Linked DNA regions of Homo sapiens. The main gene of each other region encodes a partner of the protein of the gene in region 2 in a complex. Each region holds a gene or a part of one and is shown on either strand. Other genes may lie near its edges.

Region 1 (7,915 bases), on a different chromosome or scaffold from region 2:
TTTGGGAGGCCAAGGCAGGAGGATCCTAGTTTGAGCCTAGGAGTTTGAGCCTAGGAGCCTGGTAACAAAGTGAGACCCTATCTCTACAAAAAATACAAAAATTAGCCAGGCATGGTGGTATGCACCTGTAGTCCCAACTATTCAGAAGGCTGAGGTGGGAGGATCACCTGAGCCTGGGGAGGTCAAGGCTACAGTAATCCATGGTTGCACTGCTGCACTCTAGCCTGCGTGACAGAGTAAGACCCTGTCTATTAAAAAAAAAAGGCAGCCGGGCACGGTGGCTCACGCCTGTAAATCCCAGCACTTTGGGAGGCCAAGGCAGGCAGATCACCTGAGGTAGGGAATTTGAGACCAGCCTGACCAACATGGAGAAACCCCGTCTCTACTAAAAATACAAAAAAAAAAAATTAGCTGCGCGTGGTGGCGCATGCCTGTAATCCCAGCTACTTGGGAGGCTGAGGCAGGAGAATCGCTTGAACCCAGGAGGCAGAGGTTGCAGTGAGCCGAGATCACGCCATGGCACTCCAGCCTGGGAAACGAGAGCAAAACTCCATCTCAAAAAAAAAAAAAAAAGGTCAGGGTTTTTCAACCTCAGCTCTATTGATGTTTTGGGTGAGAAAATTCTTTGTTGTGGGGAACTATCCTGCCAATTGTAGGATATTTAGCAATATTACGAGCCTCTACCTACAAGATGCCAGTAGTAGCCTCTCTCAGTTGTGACAAGCAAATGCATCTCCCGATTATTGCCAAATGTCTTCTGGAGGGCAAAGTTGCCCCAGGTTGAAAACCACTGTGCTAAGCAAAAAGTCAGATGCAAACAATTACATACTGCATGATCCCATTTATATGAACTATCCAGGAAAGTTACATATGAGTGGAGGCCAGGGGCAGTGGCTCACGCTTGCAATTCCAGCACTTTGGGAGGCCAAGGAAGGTGGATTACTTGAGCCCGGGAGTTCAAGACCAGCCTGGGCAACATGCTGAAACCCTGTCTCTCCTAAAAACGTAAAAATTAGCCAAGCGTGGTAACACGCACCTGTAATCCCAGCTACTTGGGAGGCTGAGGCACGAGAATTGCTTGAACCAGGGGGGTGGAGGTTGCAGTGAGCCGAGATTACGCCACTGCACTCCAGCCTGGGCGACAGAGCGAGACTCAGTTTCAAAAACAAAACAACCACAACAAAAAATGTGAGTGGAAGCAGAGATTGTTTGCAGATTAGCTCATGGGAATTTGGGGGGAGTGATAGAAATGTTCTAAAACTGGATTGTAGTGATGTGGCAACTTCAGATACATTTACAAAAATAGTCACTGAGTTTTACACTTACAATGGGTGAATTTTATGGTAATGTAAATTATACCTCAATAGAGCTGTAAAAAAAAAAAAATTACACGTGTGATTAGTACTATGCAGGAAAGGTGAGAGAGTTTCCACAGGTTGTAAAGTGCTGTCTGTTCCAGTCTGAGGAGGGGTAGCCATTGAGCTAAGACCTAAAGAATGAGAAATTGTTAATCTAGGGAGAAATTATTCCTGGGGGGTTGGTTTCTGACAAAAGGAACATTATACATTAGTGCCTGAGAGCAGGACGGGTTTGAGATAGGCTGTTTTTTGTTTTGTTTTTTTGAGACAGAGCCTTTCTCTGTTGCCCAGGCTGGAGTGCAGTGGTGCAATCTCAGCTCACTGCAACCTACGCCTCTTGGGTTCAAGCGATTCTCCTGCCTCAGCCTACCAGGTAGCTGGAATTACAGGTGCCCAACACCATGCGCTGCTAATTTCTGTATTTTTAGTAGAGACTGGGTTTCACCATGATAGCCAGGCTTGGTCTCGAACTCTTGACCTCAGGTGATCCACCCACCTCGGCCTCCCAAAGTGCTCCCAAAGTCCTGTAATCCCAAAGATTACAGGAGTGAGCCACCGCACCCAACCCTGTTTCGTTTAATTTTAACTCTAGTCCCAGTTGGCAAACTGATTTCACTGCCCAGTAAAGGGTTACAACCTTAAGATTTTATTTTTTAAGCAGTTTTAGATTCACAGCAAAATTGAGAGAAAGGTAGAGAGAGTTCCTACATACCCCCTATTCCCACATGCACAGCCTGCCCCACCGTCAACCTCCCCCACCAGAGTGGTGCATTTGTTACAGTTGATGAACCTACATTGACACATCAGCAGCAGCATCCAAATTCCATAGTTTACATAAGGGATAAGGGTTCACGCTTGGTGTTGTACATTCTGTGAATTTGGACAAATGTATAATGATGGTATCCATCATTGTAGTAAGGTACATAGTATTTTCACTGCCCTAAAAATCCTCCCTGTTCTGCCTATTCATCCCTCCCTTCCCCCAGCCCTTAGACAACACTGATCTTTTTACTATCTCCATAGTTTTGCCTTTGCCAGAATGTCATATAGTTGGAGTGATACCATATGCAGCTTCTTCAGATTGGCTTCTTTCACTTAGTGATATGCATTTAAGTTTCTTCCATGTCTTTTCGTGGCTTGACAGCTCATTTCTTTTTAACACTGAATAATCCTGTATTCCATTGTCGGGATGCCCCACTGTTTATCTACTCAGCTCCTGAAGGACATCTTGGTTGCTTCCAAATTTTGGCAGTTGTGAATGAAGCTGCTATAAATATCCATAAGCTTTTTGTGTGTGCAGGTTTTTGTGTGCACATGAGTTTTCAACTCCTTTGGGTAAACACCAAGGAGTGCAATTACTGGATCGTACAGTAAGAGCAGGTTTAAATTTGTAAGAAAACAACTGTCTTCCCAAGTGGCCGCACCATGTTGCATTCCCACCAGCAATGACAGAGTTTCTGCTTCACATCCTCACCAGCATTTGGAGTTGTCGGTGTTCTAGATTTTGTCCATTCTAATAGGTGTGTAGTAGTTAAATATTTTTTTCAAGTTGGAGAAGTTGATTATAGAATAATCTAAATTCACTACTAGGAAATTCTTCCTTCTGTCTGAAACTGCCAAAGTGATGCTGTCTACACTTAGATATAACCAGAAATAAGCATTTCTAAAGTGACACTGTAACCAAAAGAGGAATTAAAATTCCTGATGAACTGATTGATAAGGAGGGGAGACTGGACAATGGGGAGTGATTTAAGGGAACTTGGTCTTCTTCGGTCACTAACAGGAGAACATGAATAATGCAGAAACCAGCAAAATTAAAAACAAAATAGTAAAAAGGAGTAAAAACTGCTTCTGTTTTGACTTTTTATAAAGCCTTTGATACAAAAACATATACCATATTATTTTGTGGAAAAGCACATCTATTTTAAGAAACATTAAAGTGTTGATATTAACATAATTTTTGAAGTAGTACTAAAAGTCATAAAAGCGTAACACTTTTGAGCAAGGATTTCATTTCATTCCCTCAACAGTGCTGTGTCCCATTTCACAGGTAGAACGTCAAGGCTTAGAGAGGTTAATCGACTTACCCAAAGCCACACAGCCAGGAAGTGGTGAGACACTGGAATTGCATTCCAAATGTGTTTTTCGTTTCCACTTCAGTAATGAGGAAATGAAAGCCCAGAAGATCAAGTGGACTTGCCCAAGGCTATATAGCTTGTGGTCAGTGGAAAGTATTTCATCATAACCAGCAACATAGAAATCTGTCCCGGGGGGCATGTTCCCTCCCAATCTGAGTCACTATCCCATGTCCTCTGTCTCCAAAGCACCAGATAATCCTGGAGCCTGCAGCCACCCAGCCAGCATTACAAACAGGGTCCCAACTGTCAATACCTCCAGCATTCATTGCTGCAGCCCTAGCCTGGGAATCTTTTACAGACCAGTTGTAAACCATAAAACACAGGTTCTCAAAAAGAACAAGAGAGGAGGATTGGGTAATAGTTCAAAATTAGTCACAGAAAGAAAAAAAAAACCACTCAACTATGAAAAAGTAAAAAATTCATTACATTTAAAACTTTTGTTTAAAAAATTCCAAGCCCTGAGTAAAGGGATGCAAAAGAATTCATAGGCCAATTGTTGGCCTACAGTTCTATCATGAAAATATGACTCTCTTTTCTGGCTCCAATTCAGGACATATATATTTTGCAAAACAACATTATCCTATTATGCCAGCATCTCCCAGTGAGGAGACAAGCCTGTTGGTAAATCTGGGTTTGCCATCTCATTTATTCAACAGTGATTTCTTTTTCTTTTCTCTTTTTTTCTCTTTTTTTTTTTTTTTTTTTTTGAGACGGAGTCTCACGCTGTCACCCAGGCTGGAGTGTGCAGTGGTGCGATCTCAGCTCACTGCAACTTCCATTTCCCTGGTTCAAGTGATTCTCCTGCCTCAGCCTCCCAAGTAGTTGGGATTACAGGCATGTTTCACCACACCCGGCTAATTTTTGTATTTTTAGTAGAGATGTTTCGCCATATTGCCCAGGCTGGTCTCAAACTCCTGACCTCAGGTGATCCACCTGCCTCGGCCTCCCACAGTGCTGGAATTACAGGTGTGAGCCACTGAGCCCAACCGCAACAGTGATTTCTTTATTGAGCACCTACTGTATAGTAGTTGGTTGGGATAGCAGGTTTCATCATGAATCTGTTGCTTCTTTCTAGCCCCTCACTTTCCCCCTCCCTAGACTTGAAAGCCTCAGATAAAACATACAGAGTTCGGAAGAAAGCTAGAGGTTTGGAGGGTAGTGAGATCTTTCTGAGGCTAAAAAGAAAATTCCTCTTGAGCCCAGGAGTTCAAGACCAGCCTGGGCAACATAGCAAGACCTTGGTTTTTTTGTTTTTTGTTTTTGTTTTTTTTGAGACAGAGTCTCACTGTGTCACCCAGGCTGGAGTGCAGTGCTGCAATCTCGGCTCACTGCAACCTCCACCTCCCAGGTTCAAGCAATTCTCCCGCCTCAGCCTCCACAGGTGCCCACCACCATGCCCAGCTAATTTTTGTATTTTTAGTAGGGACAGGGTTTCACCATGTTGGCCAGGTTGGTCTCAAACTCCTGACCTCAAGTGATCAACCTGCCTTAGCCTCCCAAAGTGGTGGCATTACAGGCGTGGGCCACTGCGCCCGGCCAGAAGTCAATCTTAAAATCAAGAGACTGGACAGAATAGTGCTGATGGGGTGCAGGCCCTGTCACTTCCTAGCTGTAAACTAACTAGAATCATCTAACCTCTCTCTCTGTCTCCCTTTCTTCATCTGTGAAATAGAGGTAATAATAGCACCTACCTCATAGGGTTGTTGCAAGGATTAAAGGAATTAATTCGTATATAGCATTCAGAACAGTGTCTGCTACACAGTAAGTTCTCAAGAACTTACTTAGCTAATGTTAAAATGGTATTCCTTAAAATGAGATCCGGATGAGGATGGAAAAACTACCTATCAGGTACTATGCTTATTACCTGGGTGATGAAATAATCTGTACACCAAACCCCCATGACATGAAATTTACCTATATAACAAACCTGCACATGTAACCCGAACCTAAATTAAGAGTGAATTTAAAAAGAGAGAGAGAAATCCATTTCCCACACTCCAGTTGTTTTGGTTTTTTTTTTTTTTTTTTTTTTTTTTTTAGCACCCTCTGACTTTTCCACTTGCCAGTTTGGATTTGTAGGGTAGTTGTTAAGTGTTGGGTTTTTTCCTTCTCTCCAGGGGGAAAAAATATATAATTTAGTTCAAATCTTTTTTTTCCTCAAAATATTCTAAGAGCAAAATTAATAAAATATCCAACAAGCCTGTTTGAATGAAGACGAGGTATAATTTGCATGATAAAGATATATTTCCATTTATAAAGTTCATCAGCAGAATTAATGACAAATAAAGGGAATATCCAATTAAAGTTTCCCATCCATTAACAATTTGCTTCACTCTCAGGGCAGGAATTTTAAACGGAGATGCTTAAGTTGGAAATGATTTAAATATTAAGGTTGGTGGCATTAAAAAGGACATGAAATGATCATATTAGGATTCAAGGAAAAGAGATTCTCCAGTCATTTTTGTCGTCAGAGTCAGATGCATTTCCCCTCAATCCTAGTTCCACGGGCTTTATCTTGTTCACCCAAATGAGCTGTCAAGAAATGATGGGTGTCATCATAATCAAAGAAAACAAGTTTGCCCTTTAAAGCAAAAGAGGTAATTTGGCTGAAAGCAAATTGGAAACATTTCATGTAACGTTGCGTTTCCAGCCGCACTCTCTGAAGAATTCAGGCATTTTGATTTATGCCTGAGAGCTTTGGGGTACAATGGAGAGGACTGCATTCATTAACTACCTTGTTCACATTCATCCTGTAGCCATGGGCAAAGATCCTTCATCCTCAGAGAGCCTGAGAAATCTCCATGGCTGTCCCTAAAACTTTTTTTTCACTTACAAGATAGGATCTAGGCTGGGCATGGTGGCTCACGCCTGTAATCCCACCACTTTGGGAGGCCAAGGTGGGCAGATCACCTGAGGTCAGGAGTTTGAGACCAGACTGGCCAACATGATGAAACCCTGTCTCTATTAAAAATACAAAATTAGGCTAGCGTGGTGGTGCACGCCTGTAATCCCAGCTACTTGGGAGGCTGAGACAGGAGACTGCTTGTACCTGGGAGGCAGAGGTTGCAGTGAGCCCAAATCACACCATTGCACTCCAGCCTGGGTGACAACAGCAAAACTCCAGCTTAAAAAAAAAAAAAAAAAAGAGGAGAGATAGGATCTCGCTCTGTCACCCAGGCTGGAGTGCAGTGGTGCGATCATGGCTCACTGTAGCCTCAACCTCCCTGGCTCAAGCAATCCTCCTGCCTCAGCTCCCCAAATAGCGGGGACTACAGGCACCTGCCACCATGACAGGCTAATTTTTTTTTTAACTTTTTGTAGAGGTCTCATTTTGTTGCCCATGCTGATCTTGAACTCCTGGGCTCAAGGAATCTTCCCTCCTTGGCCTCCCAAAGTGCTTGGATTGCAGCTGTGAGCCACCATGCCCAGCCTCCTAAAACTTTGTCTTCAGGAAAAGCCTCAAAGGATCTCATGAGATTCATTAGGGAGCAGGAAGTGTGTGTGAATCAAAGTGATTGAAGATAATTCCCAATCCTCTGCTCCCAAAGGGGCTTCTGGTTTGTTTTTTGTTTTTTTGTTTTTTTAAGAGACAAGATCTCACTCTGTTGCTCAGGCTGGAATGCAGTGGCCTGATCATAGCTCACTGCATCCTCAAACTCCTGGGCTCAACAAATCCTCCTGCCTCAGCCTCCCAAAGTGTTGGGATTACGGGCGTGAACCATGATACCTGGCCTGATATTGAATACATTCTGCCTTGCCAAGGAACTAAACATCCTTAGCACCTGATCTGGCCTGCCTTTCTTTTTCGTTCTTAGTCACTTTGGGTGTTTCTTTGATTCCCTGCCATTCTCTTGGTGTGTTCTTTGGTTTGGTGAGTTGAAGTTATCTTTTGTGGCTTCAAGTGTCACTTCCTTCTCCTGGGCAACATAGCAAGACCCTATATCTACAAAAATAAAAATACAATAATTAGCTGGGAATGGTGGCACGTGCCTGTAGTATCAGCTACTCGGGAGCATGAGGCAGGAGGACTGTTTGAGCCCAGGAAGTCGAGGTTGCAGTGAGCCATGATCGTGCCACTGCACTCCCTGGATAATGGGAAGGCCAAGACACCATTGTCCACTGCAGTATGGCAGCTAGAGCTCAATGAGTTTAAAAGTGAGCTCATTGTCCTCCCCTCCAAATGTCCTCTCCTCTCCCAATTTCTGCCATAGTTTCTTAAGGGCCCCATCTTTCTCTACCAGTCACCCAAACTCAAAACTCTTTCACTCAAGTCCTAATGATTCTTTCTTCAAAACATTTCTCACATCTACAGACAATATGAAAATAAAAGTGGCACAGGTAACCTGTAAGTAGTAACTTACAGCTTTCATTGGTGCTTACTTCTTAGGAGAGGGGGAAAGACAGACAATAAACAAATAA
Region 2 (7,915 bases):
GAAAGTCTTATGCAGAAATATGAATTCCCAGTTGCTGTTGAATAAACAGGAGTTCATGCAGCACTAGGCTTGCCGTCCCAACAACCTGTCAGCCTCCAGGTGCCCCCGCCACACCTACCAGCCGCAGGTTCTTCACCACCACCTCACTGGCCAGCTCCTGCTCCTTGAGCTCCACCTTCAGTGCCCGCATGTCCTTGCGCAGCACACTCTCCTGTATGCGGTGCTCTTTCTGTGCCAGCTTCATGACTACAGTGCCCTCAGCCTTCATCTCTGTCAGGTTGTTCTGGTGCTCATATAGCAGGTGCTTCACTTTCTGCTTGTACACCTGCAGGGCAATGGGAGTACCATCTGCTCACCTGCACCACACCTCCTCACCTTTCCGTACCTGTGCACACCTGGTCACCCATAGCACACCTGTACCACACCTCCTCACCTGTCCATACCTGTACACACCTGGTCACCTGTACCACACCTCCTTACCTGTCCATCCATACCTGTACACACCTGGTCACCCATACCACACCTGCACCACACCTCCTCACCTGTCCGTACCCGTACACACCTGGTCACCTGTACCACACCTCCTCACCTGTCCATACCTGTACACACCTGGTCACCCATACCACACCTGTACCACACCTCCTCACCTGTCCGTACCCGTACACACCTGGTCACCTGTACCACACCTCCTCACCTGTACATACCTGTACACTCCTGCTCACCCACACCACACCTGTACCACACCTCCTCACCTGTCCATACCTGTACACACCTGGTCACCTGTACCACACCTCCTCACTTGTACATTCCTGTATACACCTGATCACCTGCACCGTACCTGTAACACACCTCACCTGTACATACCTGTACCCCCCTGCTCACCTGCACCACACCTGTACCACACCTTCTCACCTGTCCATACCTGTACACACCTGGTCACCTGTACACCTCCTCACCTGTAAATTCCCGTACACACCTGGTCGCCTGCACTACACCTGTACTACACCTCCTCACCTGTACATACCTGTAGACACCTGGTCACTTGCACCTACCTGCTCACCTGCACATACCTGCCCCACGTGCTCACCTCCCCACACCTCACCTGCACATACCTCCTCACCTGGCCACGCCTCCTCACCTGCACACACATGCTCACTTGCATCCACCTGCTCACTTGCATGCCTCACCTTTACACAGCTACACATGCCTGTTCACCTATGCAAACCTGTACACTTGAGGCACAGAGCAGGACACCAAGGCTGGGAGGTGAGGTGCATCCCCAGCTCATGGGGTATTAAGTGGCAGAGCTGAGTTGCAAACAGGCCAGTCTGCCCCCAGAGCCCATATTCCTTCCATGTTGTGGAGGCAGCATTTTAAACCCTCAGGACCTGCAGGGTCTCTCCCTCAGGCTTTTATAAAAAACACCTTTAAGGCTGTGACTCCCAAAGCCAAGAACAGAAAATGTCCCACCTGCACCCTCACTGGATCCAGCTCCTCTGGGGCTCTGTGGTGACCAGGTTAGCACGTGCAGGCCGGCCCCACTCACCTTGATCTCCACCTGGTGCCTCTCCTCGGCTTCTTCCATCTCCCGGTCTTTGTTCCGCAGCTCAGCCTTCTTCTCCTCCAGCTGCCTCCGTGTGATCTCCCAGAAGGTGTGGATCTTGTCCCGCTCCAGCTGGAAGTAGTTTCGTTCCTCCCGCTCGCGGTCCAGCTCCTCCCGGATGCGGCTGACATGCTCCTCCACCTGGCCAGGTGCAGTGGGTCAGGTGAGGCACTGAGCAGGGGCCCATGCACGGCAACGGGGCGTGTGGCCGGCGAAAGGCAAGGAAGAAAGAGGGAGGACTCAACTTCACCTAAAAATAAACAGCTAAATGTAAAAAGTTAAAATATAAGGCTAGGAAGCTCCGGAGACAGAATGCATTCAGCAGGTGGCAGAATTCTCTTCAATTTGGCCAATAATCATAAAATAACTAGATCCTTTCATCCATTCCTGAGAATTGATGCCTAAAAAATTTCTCAAAAGAAATATAAGAGCATCTTGCTCAAAGATATTACCCACACCATTATTACAACAGCAAAAATATCAAAAAGGAAATAACCTAAGACCAGTTTAAACAGGGAAATAAGCGAGGCGCGGTGGCTCTCGCCTGCAACCCCAGCACTCTGGGAGGCTGAGGTTGAAGGATCCCTCGCGCCCAGGAGCTGAAGACCAGCTTGGGCAACATAGCAAGACCCCATCTCTGCAAAAACTTTTTTTCATTAACTAGGCATGATGGCACGCACCTATAGTCTCAGCTACTGGGAGAGCTGAGGTGGGAGGGTCACTCAAGCTCAGGGGGTTGAGGCTGCGGTTAGTTATGATCATGCCACTACACTCCAGCCTGGGTGACAGAGTGAGAATCTGTCTCAAAAAATACACAAACAGCCAGGCATGGTGGCTCCCACCACTTTGGGAGGATCTTTTGAGCCCCAGAGTTGAACAGCCTAGGCAACATGGCAAAACCCTGTCTCTACAAAAAAAAAAAAAAAAAAAAATTAGCCAGGAGTGGTGGCACATGCCTATAGTCCCAGCTACTCAGAAGACTGAGGTAGGAGGATCGTTTGGACCTGGGAGGTCAAGGCTGCCGTGAGCCGTGATCACACCACTGCACTCCACCTGGGTGACAGAGCAGGACCCTGTCTCTAAACAATAAATAAATAAATATGGAAATGGTTGAAAAATTAGAGTATATCAACTAGGAGAAATATCACATTAACCCAAAAAAAATATGCAAATGATGTAGCAGCATTTAAACAAATTCATATCATAATGCTAAATGAAAAAAAATTCACCTTTGAAGATATAATGTTAAGCAAAAAATATACAAAACCAGTAGACTCTAAAATCTCAAGAGGGTTCAATTGCGAATCTGCAAATAGGTTAAAAAAAAATGTAGGACAGGCTTCCAGCTTTCTCGGGAGCTCATTTCCCTTAAGAATCAGTTACTGCCAGGCGCGGTGGCTCACACCTGTAATCCCAGCACTTTGGGAGGCAGAGACAGGCAGATCATGAGGTCAGGAGATCAAGGCCATCCTGGCTAACACGGTGAAACCTCGTCTCTACTAAAAATACAAAAAAATTAGCCGGGCGTGATGGCAGGCACCTGCAGTCCCAGCTACTGGGCAGCCTGAAGCAGCAGGATGGTGTGAACCCAGGAGGTGGAGCTTGCAGTGAGCCGAGGTCGCGCCACCGCACTCCAGCCTGGGCCACACAGCGAGATTCCGTCAGAATCAGTTACTTTTCGGGCACAGCCCCAGGCCACTTACTGTGAGCCTTTTTCTTTCTCAACACCACATTCCCCACAGGGAAAACACATTTCTCACCTCAAAAGAAGACAAGACAACGAGCAAACAAGAAGGAGCAGCAGGAGGGGTTCTGAGCCGAGGATGCCGGGCAGACATGAGGGAGACACGCACCCCCGAATCCAACCAGTGCCTCGGCACAACGACAAATGTCTTCACGTCACAGACCTTTAGAGGCTCCTGGGCAGAGCCTGAACCAGGGCTCCTGACTGGTCTGTTTGGCTCACATGGTGTTGAGATTTTGCCATCACTCAATATTCAGATTTCTTATAAATATCCAGATTTCCAGCTTCTCTTGGAAAATCAGAAAAAAACAGCACTGAACTCCTAGGCCCACAAGGCACTCCCCAGTGAACAGATGAAACTGTCCTCTGCTGCGGGGCAGGAGTCTCCAGGTCACCCCCATCCCTCCCCACCTGCCTGGACCCTGAAGAAGCCTTCTGAGTCTGTGGCTCAACGTGCGATGTGCAGTGCAAGGGCCTGCCCCGTAGCCTGCCCCGTAGGCTGCCCCATAGCCTGCCCCGTAAGCTGCCCCGTAGCCTGCCCCGTAGGCTGCCCCGTAGGCTCCATGGCCACTGCCCCACAAGGCCTGTCTCCACAGGAATGGGAAGCGGACAGGGAGACGGGCAGCAGCTCACATGCTGGGACAACGCAGTGTTCAATCCATTCTCCATCCAGCAGCTCCAGACATCTTTCCAGAACACAAACCTGACCCCATCACCTCTCTGCTTAGCCACTGGCTTAAACTGCCAATGGTTTGCCTGCATGTAAAATAAAGCCATTCTTTACCATTGTTCAAGGACCTCTGCCTAGCTCCAACTTCAGGTCATGAGACTCTTTCAGTCTCCTTCGTATTGATTTTTTATCTTACAACTATCAAAAGAAGGTAAGATTTATTAACAATAACACAGAGTTGACACAGCCCTCATGTCCCATGTCAGGTGCTCACAGGCAGTCGTCCATGAGGGCAGAGGCCAGAGGGTGCACCGTGCTTGCCACACACTGCCGTCTCCAGGAGCCTTTTAGGTAAAATTGTAATTATGTAATTATGTTCTGTAGCCCTTAACTACATCCAAATGAAGAAGAGACTTAAACTAACTCCTACAAAGAAACTATAAAAACATCACCTCCTCCCCAAAATAAGCAACAAGAAAAAGGCAGCCCTGATGCTGTTACTCCTTGTTGGGACTTTTATCAAAAACAATGAATGACTGGCCAGGCGTGGTGGCTCATGCCTGTAATCCCAGCACTTTGGGAGGCCGAGGCGAGTGGATCACGAGGTCAGGAGATCGAGACCATCCTGGCTAACACGGTGAAACCCCGTCTCTACTAAAAATACAAAAAAAAAATTAGCCAGGCGTGGTGGCAGGTGCCTGTAGTCCCAGCTACTCGGGAGGCTGAGGCAGGAGAATGGTGTGAACCCGGGAGGTGGAGCTCACAGTGAGCCGAGATCGCGCCACTGCACTCCAGCCTGGGCGACAGAGTGAGACTCCGTCTCAAAAAAAAAAAAAAAAAAAAAAAAAAAAATGAACGATTAATCAGATTCAGATGTGATTTGAAGTAAATCATCCTTCTTTCAAAAACTTCCTTTTTGACATAATGTTTAATGGTGAATAAAATAAAGGAGAATGCTACATGTGTGTTCTACGATAAGTCTATACACATCAGGTGCAAAAAAAGGGTAAGATTGAAAGAGAATACACGAAATTAAAAACAGCTTTTAGATCAGAAAAGCATGTCCTTCCACACTCCTACCACCCTGTTACAAAGCTCTTTCACAGGCTGCACTACCTTTCTGAAAAGACATGGTGCAGCCGAAAGCTTTGCCGCTGATGGGAATTATGGGCCACGCGGGGGGCGTGTTCTGGCTTGGACAGAAGGGTGGATCCACATGGCAAGATGGACACTCGGCGTAGGCACCCTGCGTGGTGCCCGCCCACGCCCACCCGGGGACTGGGCCACAGCCCGCTCTGCTCACCTGCTCCTTGCTCATGTCCTCTGGAGCGAGCCCATCGACAATCGGGGTGCCTTTGGCTTTGCCTTTCTTCCCTTTCTTTTTCGGTGCCTTTGGTGGAAATAATGGGGTAAGAGAGACTCTAACAGCTTCCCCTTCTTGGCTGGCTCTGATTTGCTCCCAGGAACATTTGGCAGAGAAGGTTCTGGAACCTCTCTCCCTTCTGCTCACCTGGAGCACATCATTGCCCTGAGTGTTCCCACCCTTTACCACACACACATCCTGTTGTTGCATTTGGAGAAGCACAAAGGAGAAACCTTCCTTTTGAGAAGGAGAACATTCCTTCTAGAAAAGAGAGGAGCCGGGCGTGGTGGCTCACGCCTGTAATCCCAGCACTTTGGGAGGCCGAGGTGGACGGATCACGAGGTCAGGAGATCAAGACCATCCCGGCTAACACAGTGAAACCCCATCTCTACTAAAAATACAAAAAAAAATTAGCCGGGCGTGCCGGTGGGCGCCTGTAGTCCCAGCTACTCGGGAGGCTGAGGCAGGAGAATGGCTTGAACCTGGGGCATGGAGTTTGCAGTGAGCCGAGATCACACCACTGCACTCCAGCCAGGACGACAGAGTGAGACTCCATCTCAAAAAAAAAAAAAAGAGAGGAAACCTAGCCAGGTGTGCTGGTGTGTGCCTATAGTCCCAGTTACTCGGGAGGCTGAGGCAGAAGAATCGCTTGAACCCGGGAGGCAGAGGCTGCAGTGAGCCAAGATCCCACCATTGCACTCCAGCCTGGGCAACAAAGTGAGACTCCATCTCAAAAAGCAAACTGTAACTTAAAAAAAAAAAAAAAGAAAAGAGAGGGAACTCATTCCAAACCCACTCATTCCTTGGTATACGGTGACCAGGCGCAGTGGCTCACACGTGTCATCCCAGCACTTTGGGAGGCCAAGGCAGGACAATCACTTGAGCCTAGAAGTTTAAGGCTGCAGTGAGCTATGGTGCACCACCGCACTCCAGCCTGGGCAGTAGAACGAGACCCCGTCTCCAAAAACTAAGAGAGGGGGGAACCCATTCCAAACCCACTCACTCCTTGGTAAAAAGTAAAGACCTCTGCTGTGGATGCAAAACAGAGGAAAGACCCTCAATACCACACTGCCAAATGTTACCATGCTGGCGGCAACATTGGTGACCACCATGGAAAAGACCTGCAAGACACCATTCAGTAAGCTTAGGGAGAAATGCCTCCATAACCACGATCGGTTGTGACAACCACAAGTTTCCTTTCTTTCAAAGAGAAACTTCCTTCAGAGAAGCCTGGTCAAGAAAGCTTGGGCAGACAGCACCCACCACGAGAGCCCTGTAAATGGGCTGCCAGACGGAACTGCACATGGCGTCGTGCGTGGTTTTAGCAACTTTGACAAGGATGGGAGAGAACCTTCTAACCCCACCCCCTTGTGGAAGTTGCTGAAACCACGCATGACACCAGGAGCAGTTCTGTCTGGCCACCCATTTACAGGGCACTCAAGCAGGTAACAAATTTCCATATCCTATCCTGCTGACTTTGCTACTCCCAGTAGTCTTCAGCCCATGCTTTTCTGTGTCTACATGTCTCGGTAACCTTTTTTAAAGACAAAGTCTTGCTCTGTCGCCCAAGCTGGAGTGCAGTGGTGTGATCACATAGCTCACTGCAGACTCCAATTCCTGGGCTCAACTGATACTCCCACCTCAGCCTCCCAAGGAGCTGGGACCACAGGAGTTCACTGCTGCTGTGCCCAGCTATGTAACGTTTTTAAAATTACAAATTTCATGTGGAAATTTTATTTATTTTTTAAAAACATTAAAACCTAAATCCATTTATCTTTTTTTTTTTTTTTTTGAGATGGAGTCTCCCTCGTCATCCAGGCTGCCTTGGCTCACTGCAACCTCCACCTCTTGGGTTCAAACAATTCTCCTGCCTCAGCCTCCACGAGGAGCTGGGACTACAGGTGCCCGCCACCACGCCTGGCTAATTTTTTTTTGTATTTTAGTAGAGACGAGGTTTCACCATGTTGGCCAGGCTGGTCTTGAACTCTCTTTTTTTTTTTTTTTTTTTTTTTTGAGACAGAGTCTTGCTCTGTTGCCCAGGCTGGAGTGCAATGGTGCGATCTCAGCTCACTGCAACCTCCGCCTCCCGGATTCAAGCCATTCTCCTGCCTCAGCCTCCTGAGTAGCTGGGATTACAGGTGCCCACCACCACGTCCGGCTAATTTTTTGTATTTTTAGTAGAGACGGGGTTTCACTATGTTGGCCAGGCTGTACTCGAACTCCTGACCCGTGATCTGCCCACCTAAGCCTCCCAAAGTGCTGGGATTACAGGCGTGAGCCACCGCGACTGGCCCATTTATCTTCATTTATGTTTCATTTAGTCCTGAATGAAAACATTAGGTGGAGCCAGGCACAGTGGCTCACACCTGTCATCCCAGCACTTTGGGAGGCTGAGGCGGGCGGATCACTTGAGGTCAGCAGTTCAAGACCAGCCTGGCCAACATGGTGAAACCCTGTCTCTACTAAAAATACAAAAAAATTAGCCAGGCGTGGTGGCGGGCACCTGTAGTCCCAGGTACTCGGGAGGCCGAGGCA
Region 3 (7,915 bases), about 32 Mb from region 2:
GCCTCTTTTCCCATCCCTAGCAGTCCTTTCTCGATAGCTGAGCCCAGGGGATTCAGGGCTGAGGACCCACCATGAGGCGCTCCTCCTCCTCCCTCAGCCGCTTCTTCTCCTGGGCTCTGATCTCCTGCTGCTTCTTCACCTCTTGCTCCTGCTCAAACCTGCTGCACAGGTCCCTGGGGGGTTTGATGGTATACTTCTTAGGCAGCACCTTTTCCTCCTTCTTGATGGTCTGTCACCCAAAAGAAGAGGAAGGGTCAGTGGCCCTGCATCCCCCCTTTACATGTGCAACTCCAAGAGGTGAGACCCGCCCAGCCAGTCCCTCAGACCGGGGGATGGCAGCTACTCCTGTAGCCTGTGGCCTTTCTGGCTCTAAATGCAGCTCCAGCTCCATGACCTTGGGAGGTCCTCTCACTTCTCTGAATCTCAGGTTCATGGTGTGAGAATAATAGGAACTTTCTCCCCAGCCTCTTTCTGAGAAGTAAAGACAGAAAAAATGCCCGAGGGAGGTACCTGTCAGGGCCAGGAGCTCAGGAGGTGTGGCTTTCTCCTCTTCAATCCTCACCACCCATCCTAGCCATGACCTGGGTCTGATCCAGAAGTGGGGAGAATTGTCAGGAGTTGGATTTTTCAGATCTTGTCATCGGAGGGCCTCATATGTTGACTTTAACAGTTTGCTGGGCCAGGAAGGAGAAGAAACCGTGTGTGTGTGTGTGTGTGTGTGTGTGTGTACGCTTGCGTGTCTACAAATGTGTGCTAAGTGGCAAGAAGTATTCCCAGGAAAGAGCACTGCAGAGGCTGCAGAGGTGGGCCTGTGATAGTCATGAAGGAGAAATAGTGAATCTCCAGCGTTTCAAGTTCCCTGAGTCTCCATTTTCCTGCTGTGTGACTTTGGCCACATTATGTTACCTTTTGATTTCATCAACATACTCATCTGTAACATAAAAGTGACAATATCTACCACACTGGGCCATCGTGGGGAGCAACAAGCACAATGGACATGAAAGCGGATTTTAAACCCGAAAGTTCTCTGCATCTGTTTGTTATTGATATAATGTTAATCATTAAGCTTTTGGCTGAGCTGAGAGCTGAGATGCCCGGGTGGGAGCTCAGAGGCTTTTTTTTTTTTTTTTTTTTTTTGGAGCCAGAGTATCCCTCTGTTGCCCAGGCTGGAGTGCAATGGTGCGATCTCAGCTCACTGCAACCTCCACCTTGCAGGTTCAAGCGATTCTCCTGGCTCAGCCTCCCGAGTAGCTGGGTTTACAGGCATGCACCACCACACCCAGCTAATTTTTATATTTTTAGTAGAGACGGGGTTTTGCCATGTTGGCCAGGCTGGTCTGGAACTCCTGCGCTCAAGTGGTCCACTTGCCTCAGCCTCCCAAAATGCTGAGATTACAGCCTCCCAAAATGAGCCACCGTGCCCAGCCAGAGGCTTTTGAAGCCAAAAGCCATGGCGGAGCTCGTGCTCCATCTTCTCTTGGGGAGGTGGGCCTGAGAGAGCAAGGCTCTTCTTGTGCTTCCCCTTCTGTCTCGCCCTTCTCCCACCAGAGCACCCACCCTGGGGTCCCTGGGTGCTCACCCAGGTATAACCCAGGTACACAGTGATCCTGCTGGATGCCTCAGGTCCCTGGATCCCCATCTCCAAGCTGCGGACACCCACAGGAGCCTGACCCTGATCCCAGAGTCCTGGAATTAATCCACCTCATGAAGAGCATTTTCTGTCTGTAGCATGACTATTTTCTAAATGTAAAGAGATGCATTTGTGATTCTGATATTCATTCCAGAGTATTTCTTGTGTCTGTAGCAGCCTGTGGTCCTTATGGAGATCTTAATGAGCAGATCTAAAAACACAGCCACCAGCCACTGAACAGTTGGTGATTTTTTTTTTTTTTTTTTTTTTTTTTGCTATTAAAAAGGGGCCTTGAGGGCCAGGCACGGTGGCTCAGGCCTATAATCCCAGCACTTTGGAAGGCTGAGGCGGGAGGATTGCTTGAGTCCAGGAGTTCACGACCAGCCTGGACAACATAGTGAGAACCTATAAAAAACAAACAAAATTAGCTGGCCGTGGTGGTACTCGCCTGTAGTCTCAGCTACTTGGGAGGCTGAGGCAGGAGGACGGCTTGAGTCCAGGAGGTTGAGGTTGCAGTGGGCCGAGATCATGCCACTGCACTCCAGCTTGAGTGACAGAGTGGAAGAGACCCTGTCTCAAAAAAAAAGCAGGCTTTTTACCTCGGGAGTGTGGGACTGAGAACCAAATGTCTGTTCACTTGTCTGTTATTTTTTATTTCTTTTATTTATTTTTTGAGATGGAGTCTTGCTCTGTCACCCAGGCTGGAGTGCAATGGCGCAATCTCAGTTCACTGCAGCCTTTGCCTCCCGGGTTTCAAGTGATTCTCCTGTCTCAGCCTCCTGAGTAACTGGGACTACAGGCACATGCCACCATGCGTGGCTAATTTTTTTGTATTTTTGATAGAGACAGGGTTTCGCCATGTTGGCCAGGCTGGTCTCGAACTCCTGACCTCAAGTGATTTGCTCGCCTTGGACTCCCAAAGTGCTGGGATTACAGGCATGAGCCACCGCACCTGGCCTATTTTCTTATATAAAAATGGCTGGCTGGATTTTTATCAAATGCATAGGGTAAATTTGGAATCGTTTGACTTAAGATATAAGCTATGTGGCATTCATAAAATTTACCAAGCAGGGAGCATAGTAGCTGAAAACTGAGTTACAACAGACAGAGAAGAACAGCCAGCTTGGAAAACTGGGCTGGATGTGTTAAGACACCGAGGACATAAATCACTGGTGGTTTGAAATATGAACTCCAGGGCAGCGGAAGGGCTGGTGGTGAGGGATCTGTGTCCGCGTGGCCAGGGCTGGGGATGAGGCGGCAGTGATGGACGTCTCTAAGGATGGCACGACAGCACCGGGAATGTTCATCCTTTGGGAAACCCGGGCAGCTCAAGCCCGACCATACCTCCTTGGGCTTCACAGTGAGTGGGCACACCTCCCGCGTCAGGTCCATGTGGCACAGGTCCAGCGAGCCGTAGCCGTTGACGCAGTAAGCATCATAGCCAGAGCCGATAAGCATGGAGCAGAGCAGCGTACTGAAGTCAAAGCAGTTCCCCTTCTGGTACTTGAGCACAGTGGTCGAGGAGTACAGGTGCGAGGGCTGGTCACAGTGGGACGGTCAGCACAGCTGGGGCCCCGCTGCCCCAGCCTGTCCTCCCCACCGGTCACAGCCCACCACCTGTCAGGGTGGGGAGCCAGGACCAATGCACAGGCTGGACCTGCTTTGGGCCCCTAACCCTTGTGGGGTCAGGGAGCCTGCTAAGAATGGAATGACAACCAGACACCATGCCATTCACATTTGCCTGTCATTTGAAGGGGCTATGGACTTCCTGATAGGGGGAAACCTTCTGGACTGTAGGAGTGTCTGATCTAATGCCCTCTGACTGGTAAGTTTACTGTTTTGCTCCAATGCTCCCCCTTCCTTCGATACCCACCTTTCCTCCTCCTCCCTTTATCAGTTCTCCACTGTTGACCTTGCCCTTTCTTCCTCCCTCCCTCTATTCTGAAGGAGAAGCTGACGAATTTGGTCAGAAGCCCAAAGATGGGGTTAGGGCCACGGGCAGCCGGGCCTCCCCTCTCTCTTTCCTGTACCGCTTGAAGCCATGGCAGGGAAGCTCTGAATGCAAAGGAGAAAAGAGGTGGGAACCAGAAGCCCAGGCTTGCTGTGTGTCCTCAGGCAAGTGGCTGTCTCTCTCTAGGCCTGTTTGCCCTTAGGGGCCCTGAGAGGCTGTACCCTGAGCCTGGCTGAGCTTCCTTTTCCCAGACCGTGCCTGACATCCCATTGAAGGAAATCATGTACACAGTGATCCGTTTCCAAGGCAAAGTGCCTTGAATAGGCTTAGGTCAGCAAACTACAAAAACCCCAGGATATACTAGGCCCCTGCTTGAATAGCCAATGCCTGTTTGTCAGCCTTCTCCTTCCTCCCCCTTACCTACCGCCTTAGTTGCCCTCACTCAAACCAAAAAAGTTTAGCCTAAGATAAAAGTTTACTAGTCTGCAAAATAGCTCGCTTTGTCTGTTCTTATCAGCCTGCCCAGCTACTCAGGTCATAAGTCAAATACTTAAAGAGCCCCTGAGCTAACTAGGATTGCAATGCATTGTGGGTTGCAATAAAATGCTGCAAAACAACCCTAGAAAAAACACCTAAAGCCCCTGCCTAACAATCAATAGGCGATGTCTGGGAAGATTGTGACCCCATAGTACTCAGCCTGTGAGGAACCAGGGGAGGGACCTGCGCACTAGGGGATAAACTGCTTGTTAAAACTATGCTGGGTGTGTCTGCCTATCAGACACCCAATCTTGCAAGACCATCATTAAAAGTCTCACTTTCGCTGTTCTCCAGGTCTCTAAGTCCATTCTTTTTTTTTTTTTTTTTTTTGAGAGAGTTTTTTGAGAGTTTTGCTCTTATCACTCAGGCTAGAGTGCAGTGGTGCCATCTTGGCTCACTGCAACTTCCGCTTCCCAGGTTCAAGCGATTCTCCTGCCTCAGCCTCCCCAGTAGCTAGGATTACAGGCATGTGCCACCACGCCCTGCTAATTTTTGTATTTTTAGTAGAGACGGGGTTTCGCCATGTTGGTCAGGCTGGTCTCAAACTCCTGACCTTGTGATCTGCCCGCCTTGGCCTCCCAAAATGCTGGGATTACAGGCATGAGCTACCACGCCCGGCCTCTAAGTCCATTCTTTGGGTTTGGATGGGTGAGTTTGTTTCTCACACCATCTTAGTCCTGGTGGGCTCAGGCATGCAGCCTGTGAGTGGTGCTTACCGGCTTGAGAGGGTCAGGCAGGGGCACCATGGTGAGGAAGTCGGAGACAAACTGGGCACAGCTGTCCCAGTTGTAGAGCTCGGGGTAGGGCATCAGTGTGGGCCGGAGGGTTGTGCTCACGAACTTCTGCAAGGAGAGAGATGGTGCCAGTGGGGTCAAGGCAATAAGAACTTGTGAGATCAAGCTTGGGGCCTTCCTTGAATCCACAGGGGGACCCTAGAGGCCTGAGCAAATGCAGGAGGCCAGGCCCACATGACCTGGGGTGGCAGAGCAGCCCTTGGCTGGGAAGGTGATGCCCAGATCTGGCACATGGCAGCCATCAGTGGCGCAGTGGCAATGACTGGGAGGCCCTTATCATGTTGCCAGCACCCGGAGACAGCACAAGCATATTCTGGATCTGGACTTTGAAGGGCTTTGAAGTTTTGCCGCCTTCAACCCCTAGGGCATTGTGGAGACACCTGAGGCCCAGAGCAGGCTTGAGAGCTGCCTGAGGTGACCCAGCAAGTCAGGGCTGAATGAGGAGATCAGGTCTGTTTCCTGGGGTTCCTGGGAGCACTGTGCTCTCCTCCCAGGAGCGATGCTCTCCCTGGGGCCTACAGAGGTTCTGGGCTGGGGCCAGCTGGCGACCAGTACAGTCTGAAGCCTCAGAGGTCAGCCTGTCCAGGGAAGGACAGAGAAATAAGACAAATTGGACCAGGACAGGCATAAGAACCTAAGCTCTGGCTTTTTCCTTCCAGCCCTGTGACCCAGAGCATGTCTCTGAGCCTTTCTGGGCCTCAGTTTCTCCATCTGTAGATGGAATGACATGGGATTCATCCAGGGGGTGGGAAACAGCTGCCCACGAGCTGACAGGGACCCACAGACCCGCTTTATTTGGCCCACGTGGCAATGTTTAGCATTTATGTCAGCTGCCAGCATTTAAAAACCAGAGACTCCCACACAAATCCCGAGTCTCCTCTTGATCAGGTAACCCCAGGCCTGCAGTTTCCCCGCAGCAATCAGCAGCTGCCTCTTTAGGCGGGGGCATGGGGTCTCCAGACCACCACCGCCCTCCAGGGTAATCTGCACTGAGCCTGCTGAGGCCTGCTGGCGTTCGACTTTATGTTGCCCCCAGACTAGAAGCGCTCTGGCCCACAGGAGGTCCGTGATTTGGCCCAGTGACCTTGGAGAACCTGCCCCACTTCCCTGTGCCCTCTGCTCTCCAGCCCCAGGCTCCCCAGCCCTGCCCTCAACATGCCAGCCTTACGGGCACTTCACACTCGTTCAGGGGGTGCAGGAAGAGGGGCACGCGGTCCGGGCACAGATGGCTGTACTGGCGGGAGAAGTTGTCTGCCACCTGCAGCAGGTGTTCCTCCTTGGGTGTGTTGGTTTTGTAGGAAATGGGCAGCTTGGAGATGTCAATAGTGTCCTTGGTAAAGGCCCTGTGCCACAACAGGGATGGCATTAGGGAAGCCATGCCTGGCACACAGGAGCCCTGGTTCCACTGAGTTGCCATTGGCTCTACCCCTTCCTCATTTAATCCTCACGGCTACTGAGAAGGCAGGTATCATTAACATCTGCACATTTTCATATATATATTTAAGAGACAGGTCTTGCTCTGTTGCCCAGGCTGGAGTGTGATAGCACAATCATAGCTCACTGCAGCCTTGAACTCCTGGGCTTAAGTGACCCTCCCACCTCAGCCTCCCAAGTAGCTGGGACTATAGGCACCACCACACCTGGCTAATTTTTGTATTTTTTGTAGACATGGGTGGGGGGGTCTTGCTATGTTGCCCGGGCTGGTCTCGAACTCCTGGCCTCAAGCGATCCTCCCACCTTTTCCTTCTAAAGTGCTGGGACTACAGATGTGAGACACAGCGCCTGGCCAGCACCTGCACTTTTAGACAGATAAAGGCACTGAGGCACCGAGAGGCTGAGTGACTTGCCCAAGGTCACACAGCTAGTTGGGAGAGCATGGACACTCGGCCCAGGCCATTTGAAAGCAGAAAGCCTTCACTCATAACTGCTTCCCTCTATCTCCTGGTCACCCTACCAGACCAGGCACCAGCACTCTGCCTGGGTCTCCCTGTGCCCAGCCCCGGTCTACCCTTGCCAGGGCCCCCACCCTGCCACACTCACGGGAGCTCCGCTGAGACAGTGATCTGGATCTCTGACAGCTTCTTCTCCAGGTCTCTGAGCGTCTCCTGCTTTAAGGTGATTTCCTCCTTCCGCACCTCAACTGGCCTCATCATTTTCTCCATCCTCGCCCATTCAGCCCACTCGGCCGCCTCCTCCCGCTCGGCCTCCTCCTCCTCCTCCACCTTCTCCCTCAGGACCTCCATTCTGGAGCGTCTCTGGGTGTCTGGAGATGGAATGTCTCTGTGGGGAAGGGTAAGTATACTCCATGGCCGACTGTCAGCCCAGGCAGGAGCCACCAACACCATCTGGGCATCCCCGGGAGGCCTGGGAGATGGTTTTGAGGAGGTGTCGAACACATAGGGAGTGATTCCCTCTTTGACTTCCTTTCAAACATGGAGAAAGTCTCTGTTTGGTGCTACCCCATCTGTAACACCTTTCTAATCCTGGCAAATATTCCTTTACAACAAAGACAAAGCAGGCCTCCGGTTGGAAGCCATCCTCAGGACAGGACAGGGAAAGGCACGTGTCGATTTGCTTTTAGTATATTTGACAGTTATCTTTTTTTTTAAATTTTTTATTTTTTTGAGACAGGGTCTTGCTCTGTCACTCAGGCTTGGAGTGCAGCAGCACGATCATGGCTCACCGCAGCTTCAAACTCCCAGGCTCAAGCAATCCTCCCACCTCAGCCTCCCCAGTAGCTGAGACCACAGGTGCACACCACCACACCTGGCTATTTTTTTTTTTTGGTAGAGACAGGGTCTGGCTATGTTGCCCAGGCTCAAACTCCTGGCCTCAAGCGATCTTCCTGCTTTGGCCTCCCAAAGTGCTGGGATTACAGGCATGAGCCATTGTGCCAGCTGACAGTTATCAATGACAAGTACTGTGAATGCTGTGGGGATTACTATAGTATTGTCAAGTTTCTTATTTAAATAAATGAATTGGCTGGGTGCGGTGGCTCATGCC

What was found.
Region 1: DRC4 (region 2) and DRC10 share a complex: the UniProt entries of both Homo sapiens proteins name them as parts of the nexin-dynein regulatory complex.
Region 3: DRC4 (region 2) and DRC7 share a complex: the UniProt entries of both Homo sapiens proteins name them as parts of the nexin-dynein regulatory complex.

The regions. Positions count from the first base shown.
Region 1 is NC_000012.12:113,210,796-113,218,710, reverse strand, and holds part of DRC10 (dynein regulatory complex protein 10), read left to right. Parts: intron 1-7,915. UniProt on the Homo sapiens protein: Component of the nexin-dynein regulatory complex (N-DRC), a key regulator of ciliary/flagellar motility which maintains the alignment and integrity of the distal axoneme and regulates microtubule sliding in motile axonemes.
Region 2 is NC_000016.10:90,025,128-90,033,042, reverse strand, and holds part of DRC4 (dynein regulatory complex subunit 4), read right to left. Parts: intron 5,409-7,915; exon of another isoform or gene 5,408-5,408; coding exon 5,321-5,407; intron 4,145-5,320; exon of another isoform or gene 3,142-4,144; intron 1,868-3,141; exon of another isoform or gene 1,745-1,867; coding exon 1,547-1,744; intron 326-1,546; coding exon 119-325; intron 1-118. UniProt on the Homo sapiens protein: Component of the nexin-dynein regulatory complex (N-DRC), a key regulator of ciliary/flagellar motility which maintains the alignment and integrity of the distal axoneme and regulates microtubule sliding in motile axonemes.
Region 3 is NC_000016.10:57,697,190-57,705,104, reverse strand, and holds part of DRC7 (dynein regulatory complex subunit 7), read right to left. Parts: intron 7,193-7,915; 5' UTR 7,156-7,192; coding exon 6,953-7,155; intron 6,256-6,952; coding exon 6,081-6,255; intron 4,961-6,080; coding exon 4,835-4,960; intron 3,170-4,834; coding exon 2,975-3,169; intron 663-2,974; exon of another isoform or gene 511-662; intron 230-510; coding exon 71-229; intron 1-70. UniProt on the Homo sapiens protein: Component of the nexin-dynein regulatory complex (N-DRC) a key regulator of ciliary/flagellar motility which maintains the alignment and integrity of the distal axoneme and regulates microtubule sliding in motile axonemes.